Regions from separate parts of the Homo sapiens genome. Here region 1 is linked to region 2. Evidence: fine-mapped expression QTL. A gene starts in region 2. The other region holds a variant in brackets. All regions are shown on one strand. Distances are between the middles of the regions.

Region 1 (2,905 bases), 29 kb before region 2:
CTCTTCGATTTTGAAGGTCTACTGCTGCTAGGGAGTTAAGGTGATCTTGCAAGGTGACCAGGGAGTCGGCAACCGGTTCCATGTCACCATTTAGTTCTTGAGATAGTTTGTAGTAGAACTGAGTAGAGGTTGTAATACTGCCAATGCCAGTACCTAGTCCACCTAGTACTCCTGCTCCGATAACAAAAGGAAGAATGGGTACTCTTTTGTTGTGGGGCTTAGGTATGACATACTTGTATAAATCTTGTTCAGTGTAGATGGTCATAGGGGGCACTAAGAATGAGAGGAAGCACATAGATTCCGAAGAGCCATTCAAACAATGATAGGCTGGATACATTCCTCACTGAGGGCCCTGGTGCCTTTGGATAATTTTAGCCCTAAGTATTTAACCTGCTGTGAGCAGAGCTGAGCCTTCCGTTTGGAAATCTTGTAGCCACAGGCAGCAAGGAAATTTAAGAGCGCTTGGGTGACTTGATGGTACAGGTTTCTGAACAGGCGGCTAAAAGTAAATCATCCACGTATCAAAGGACAAGAGTGTCCATGTATGAGAACTGGCTCAAGTCTTGGGCTAATGCCTGGCCAAATAGATGGGGGCTATCCCTGAACCCTTGGGGTAAAACAGCCCAGGTGAGTTGAGACATTGGTTTAAAAGGATCTTCAAAACATCTTAACCATTTTTAAATGAACAGCTCAGTAGTATTAAGAATATTCGCATTGTAGGCCGAGGCAGGCAGATCACGAGGTCAGGGGATCGAGTCCATCCTGGCTAGCACAGTGAAACCCCATCTCTACCAAAAAAATAATGCAAAAAATTAGCCGGGCGTGGTGGCGGGCGCCTGTAGTCCCAGCTACTGGGGAGGCTGAGGCAGGAGAATGGCATGAACCCAGAAGGCAGAGCTTGCAGTGAGCCGAGATCATGCCACTGCACTCTAGCCTGGGTGACAGAGCGAGACTCTGCCCGCCCCCACCCCCAAAAAAGACGAATATTCACATTGTTGTGCAACCATCACCACCATTGATCTCCAGACTCTTTGTCTTGTAAAATGGAAACTCCATTCCCATTAATCACCAACTCCCAGTCCCCTTCCTCCAGCCTCTGGAAACCATCAGTCTACTTTCTGTCTCTATGATTTTGTCTGAGTACCTCATATGAGTAAAATCATACAGTATTTGTCCTTTCATGACTGTCTTACTTCACTCAGCATGATGTCCTCAAGGTTCCTCCGTGTTGTAGCGTGTGTCAGAGTTCTCTTCTTTTAAGGCTGAACAATGTTCCAGGGCATGGATAGATCACATGTTGCTTATCCCTTCATTCACTGATAGATACTTGGGTTGCTTCCAGTGTGTGAGTCTTTAACCAGCCGATTGGCCCTGAGGATCCATGCTCCAAATTCTCTATAAAGACCGATGGTTAGCTGTGTTACTTTTTTTTTTTTTTTTTTTTTTTTTTTGAGATGAAGTCTTGCTCTTGTCCCCAGGCTGGAGTGCAATGGCGTAATCTCAGCTCACTGCAACCTTCGTCTCCTGGGTTGAAGCGATTCTCCTGCCTCAGCTGCCCGAGTAGCTGGGATTACAGGTACCTACCACCACAACCGGCTCATTTTTGTATTTTTAGTAGAGACAGAGTTTCACTATGTTGGCCAGGCTGGTCTCAAACTCCTGACCTCAGGTGATCTGCCTGCCTTGGCCTCCCAAAGTGCTGGGATTATAGGCATGAGCCACTGCGCCCAGACTGCTGTGTTACATTTAAAGACTACCAAAAAGGTAGGTCTCAGACTTTCCAATGGTAGCTTGTTTTGAATTTAACACAGTTTCCAAATAAATTACTTTT[T/A]AAAAAAAAAATTTGTTCCATTTTTTCCCCCTGGCTTGTCATTCTGGAAGTAAAGAAAAACATTTCTGCACACTTCCCACAACAAACCTTCATGCTCCAAGAATGAGTCATCACATTTCTGGATGGAGCAAAGACGCACAGGCAGTGAAAGCATGCATTTAGTCTTCCAGTGAGGGATCCTGACACTGTGACTTAGCAGCTACCTTCAAGTGAGCTTTGAGGGTCAGGACTCGGTCAAGGCAATAAAGTCTCATTTTTTGCTAGAGAGGATGGGATCTGCTCTTGGTATTTATGGAGACTGTCAGCCATGGTCCACGAGGAATCATATCTCCTTGAGTCTAGGCTCCTCTGACAAGTGGCAGTGGGCTCTCCCTTTTGAGATACGGAGTCTATTTCTCCATCCCATGAATTTGGGCTGGCCATGCAATTTGCTTTTGCCAACAGAAGGTGGCAGAAGGGACAGAGTGCTGGCTCCAGGGTTAAGAGGCTTTGCAGTTCTTGCTCTCTCCCTGGTGGAACCAAGAAACCACCATATCTAGCCTGTGTTGGATGGAGAAGGACTCAGATGTCCCACCCCAGAGCTAGAAGCTGCGAGTGAGTCTGTTGGGTACGTACTTGCCCAGCTGCCCCTCTAGCTAAATGTGATCTTGTGGGTGAGCCAGGAGAAACCGGCAGAGGACCCACCCAGCCAACCCACAGAATGATGAAAAATAAATAATCATTGCTATTATAGGCCACTCCATTTTGGGATGCTTTGTTTAATAGAAATAGATAACTGATCCAGTATTTGAGAACATAAATGAGTTTCTGGCTCTGAGGGAGGATGCGGATAACAGCAGTCCCAGCGCTGCCAGGCTTTGTGTCTGAGAGGTGGTGGACCTCCGATCCCAGCATGGGTACCAGTCCTGGGAGGTGCAAGATTGTGCATGGCAAGACGACGCTGCTGGCTGGCATCACACAAGGGTCTAAGACTAGGGGACCGGCAGGTGGGGTGGCTCATGCCTGTAATCCCAGCACTGTGGGAGGCTGAGGCGGGAGCATCACCTGAGGTCAGGAGTTCAAGACGAGCCTGGC
Region 2 (2,905 bases):
GCAAAATATATGTTGCTGTTTAAACCTTTGAGTTGGGTTTGTGGGGCCTCAGTCATGTGAAAATAACACACAGATGGGGGCATGATGAGGTCATTTTCCTGAAGGTCACACAAAAATAAATGGCAGGGCTGCTGATGAAATGGTTCTGGAGCCACATGCTCACGCTGTGTGAAGTGGAAAGCAAAGGTGCTGGGACCACCTTCTCCGAGCTGCACAGCACCACGGAAAGGACACAGCATTGCTGAGGGAGGGGTTTTCCAGGGCAGGTTCAAGACCCTTCTCTGCAGCCCCTGTTGGGTTTTCCCTAGATCCAGAAGAGAGGGGTGTGGAACTAAGTGCTTCAGCACCTACTCTTAAAACATTACTCTAAAAGCATCCTTAAGGATTCTAAGGGAAGCTAAAGGGAGGAAAACCCCAAAGATAAACCCCTGGCAGTCCTCTAACCACTGGGGAGAGCAGCCCCCCCGTTCAGACCCGCACCAGCCTGGGCAGAGGAACAGCCTGAGCCCGTCTAAGAAGTTTGGTAATAATTTTGCCATCCAGTTGAGGAGGGGCTAGGATCTTCTCCCATTCTCCTACTGGATTTACAGCAGCTCCTGGGAATGAGAACTGCGTGAGATATTTCCCTACACAAATTGGGTAGAGATAGCCGGACGCCTAAATACTTTTAACAGAGGTAACAAGCTAGAGCTGGCTTAGTCATTTTGTCCGCAGACCATAGCAAGAGAGTTTTTATTTCTGGCCACGTCTGAGGCCTCACGTCTGGCACCCAAGGCCAGGGCTCTCCCTAATGCCCTCCAATTAACAGAGCTTGGTACTCCAGCAAAAACACCAAACAAACTGCTGGATAATCAGTTAAAAGATCAATCTCATGGAACAAGCAACTGAGATGCTGGAGAATCCAATTCCTTCCTCTAAGAGGAAAAACAAAGACATTTGCATGTGCTGAGCAAAACCAAGAATAAGCAAGAAAACATGCTATTTGAATTCCGTTCAAAATGTCTCTAATAAGTGAAGCAAATTCTGCACATTCTGGGCCTCTGCAGAGAACAAATAGTGTTCTGCCTTTAATGGGTAAAATTATACAATTTGCTTTTAACAGTAAACCAAAAGCCGCGGTGGCTTCGGATAGCATCGCGCTCCCGAGGGCTCCCTCCACGCAGCTCGACCCCTGGCAGTTTTGAGCATTTCGGGGGACGCGCTTGTCCCCACCGACCTGGGAGGGCGCCGGTGCCAAGGCGGCCTGTTTGTTTTCCTGAACATTTCCTTTTGCAACTTTCGCTTCTCCTCTTCCTGCCTCACCGCTGGTGTCTGGGGCTGGGTGGCTCTCAGATTTGTCCCGGTGCGCAGTGCAGCCTGGAGTTACTGATTTGTGACCTAGATCCCCGGGTGTGTCGCCCCCGAAAGTCGGGGGCACCCGCTCTGGGCGCCTCTCCTGCGTGGGCAGACCCGCCGAACTCCGGCTGACGCCCCCAAGGCGCCACCTTTGTGTTCAAGCGTTCCGAGGCGCAGGCCCGAGGGCGGGCGCAGGAGGCAGGTCCGGGGCCCCAGCTGCAGCCCCAGCTCCTTGGGTCCCGCCCGCCGCCCGCGCGTTCCCCCGGCAGGGGGCGCCGGCGCAAGCCTCGCTCTGCCCATCGGGGCGGGCGAGCGGGGACCCTGCCTCCTGCGCGCTCGCCCGCGGTCCGCCCCCCGCGCTCGTCCTGGCGGCCGGCGGGACGCCCCAGCCCGCGCCAAGGAACCTCCCCAGCCAGCCCTTGCCGTGGCCGGAGCCGAGCGGCGCATCCGGGCCGGAGAAGAGGACGACGACGAGGTCCTCGAAGTGGACCCGTTTGCGAAGCGCCAGGGAGAAGGAGGAGCGGACGCATCGTAGAAAGGGGTGGTGGCGCCCGACCCCGCGCCCCGGCCCGAAGCTCTGAGGGCTTCCCGGCCCCCACTGCCTGCGGCATGGCCCGGGGCTCGGCGCTCCCGCGGCGGCCGCTGCTGTGCATCCCGGCCGTCTGGGCGGCCGCCGCGCTTCTGCTCTCAGTGTCCCGGACTTCAGGTAGGATCTGGCGTTCCGGCTTGTGCGCAGACGGTAGCTCACGGCTCGCTTGGCCAGCCCTTCCGCCGCCACTATGCTCCCGGCCGCTGCGCCGGCGCCCATGCTCCTGAACGAGGGGCGCCAGGCAGGGCCATTCGCATCTCGCCCGACGCCGCTCCCGGCCCGCACCCCGGACCCCCTCGGGCTGGTTACAATAAGCCGCGCTCTGGGGACGCCTAAGTGTTTCCAGAGTCTGGGGGCGGGCGGCGGCGGCTGGGAGCCTCTCGGTGGCGCTTCCCGAGGGTCGCGAGTGGGAGTGCGAGTGTGAATGTGAGTACCCGCCCTGGGCCCGGGACCCGAGTCCGCAGATGTGCCCCGAGGGTCCCAGGACCCGGGCTTCCTCCCCGAGGTCTTCCTCCTTCAAGGGCACACGGCCCCGAGTGTCCCCCGTCTGTCTCGGAGCGTCCCCCCACCCCCAGGGCGGCCTGATGCCTGGCAGAATCCTGGGGTGGACGTGGCCCCGGAGAAGCGGCTCTTGCGGCGGGGGTGGGGGCGCCGGCGGCTCCCGGGTCCTGACTTTCCCAGCCCGCGGGCCGCTTGATGGAAACGGGCTCTTTGGCATCCCTTTTGTTGGTCCCTGAAACCTCCTCTCCCCCACCGCTCTGGGGTGGCCGAAGTGGTGTGTGATCTGGATTGAAATGGTTTGTGACTGGGATCGCGGGTCCCTGAGCGGCTGGGGCGCGGCCGCCTTCTGGCCGCGCCGGGGGGACCCCCGGGACCTGTAGGAGGCTGGCGGCGGGAGGGGCGGGGCCCGGCTCCTAGGTGGGTTTCCTCCCGGGGCCCCACTTCCCCCGAGTCCCTGCGCGGTTTCGGCTGCTTGGATCC

What was found.
Region 1: its variant is fine-mapped to the expression of ROR2 in sigmoid colon (GTEx, PIP above 0.99).

Annotation. Positions count from the first base shown.
Region 1 is chr9:91,978,316-91,981,220 of GRCh38, reverse strand. All of the region lies in intron 1 of LOC105376148 (a long non-coding RNA gene), which reads left to right. Among named protein-coding and RNA genes, the nearest start is that of ROR2, 30 kb to the right of the region's middle. The variant T/A (reference allele first, on the strand shown) is at 1,832.
Region 2 is chr9:91,949,003-91,951,907 of GRCh38, reverse strand. It overlaps ROR2 (receptor tyrosine kinase like orphan receptor 2), which reads left to right and starts at 1,680. Exons shown (of 9, transcript NM_004560.4): 1 at 1,680-2,041. The coding sequence starts at 1,945. RefSeq lists silencers at 1,107-1,401, 1,515-1,694 and enhancers at 1,888-2,387, 2,388-2,889.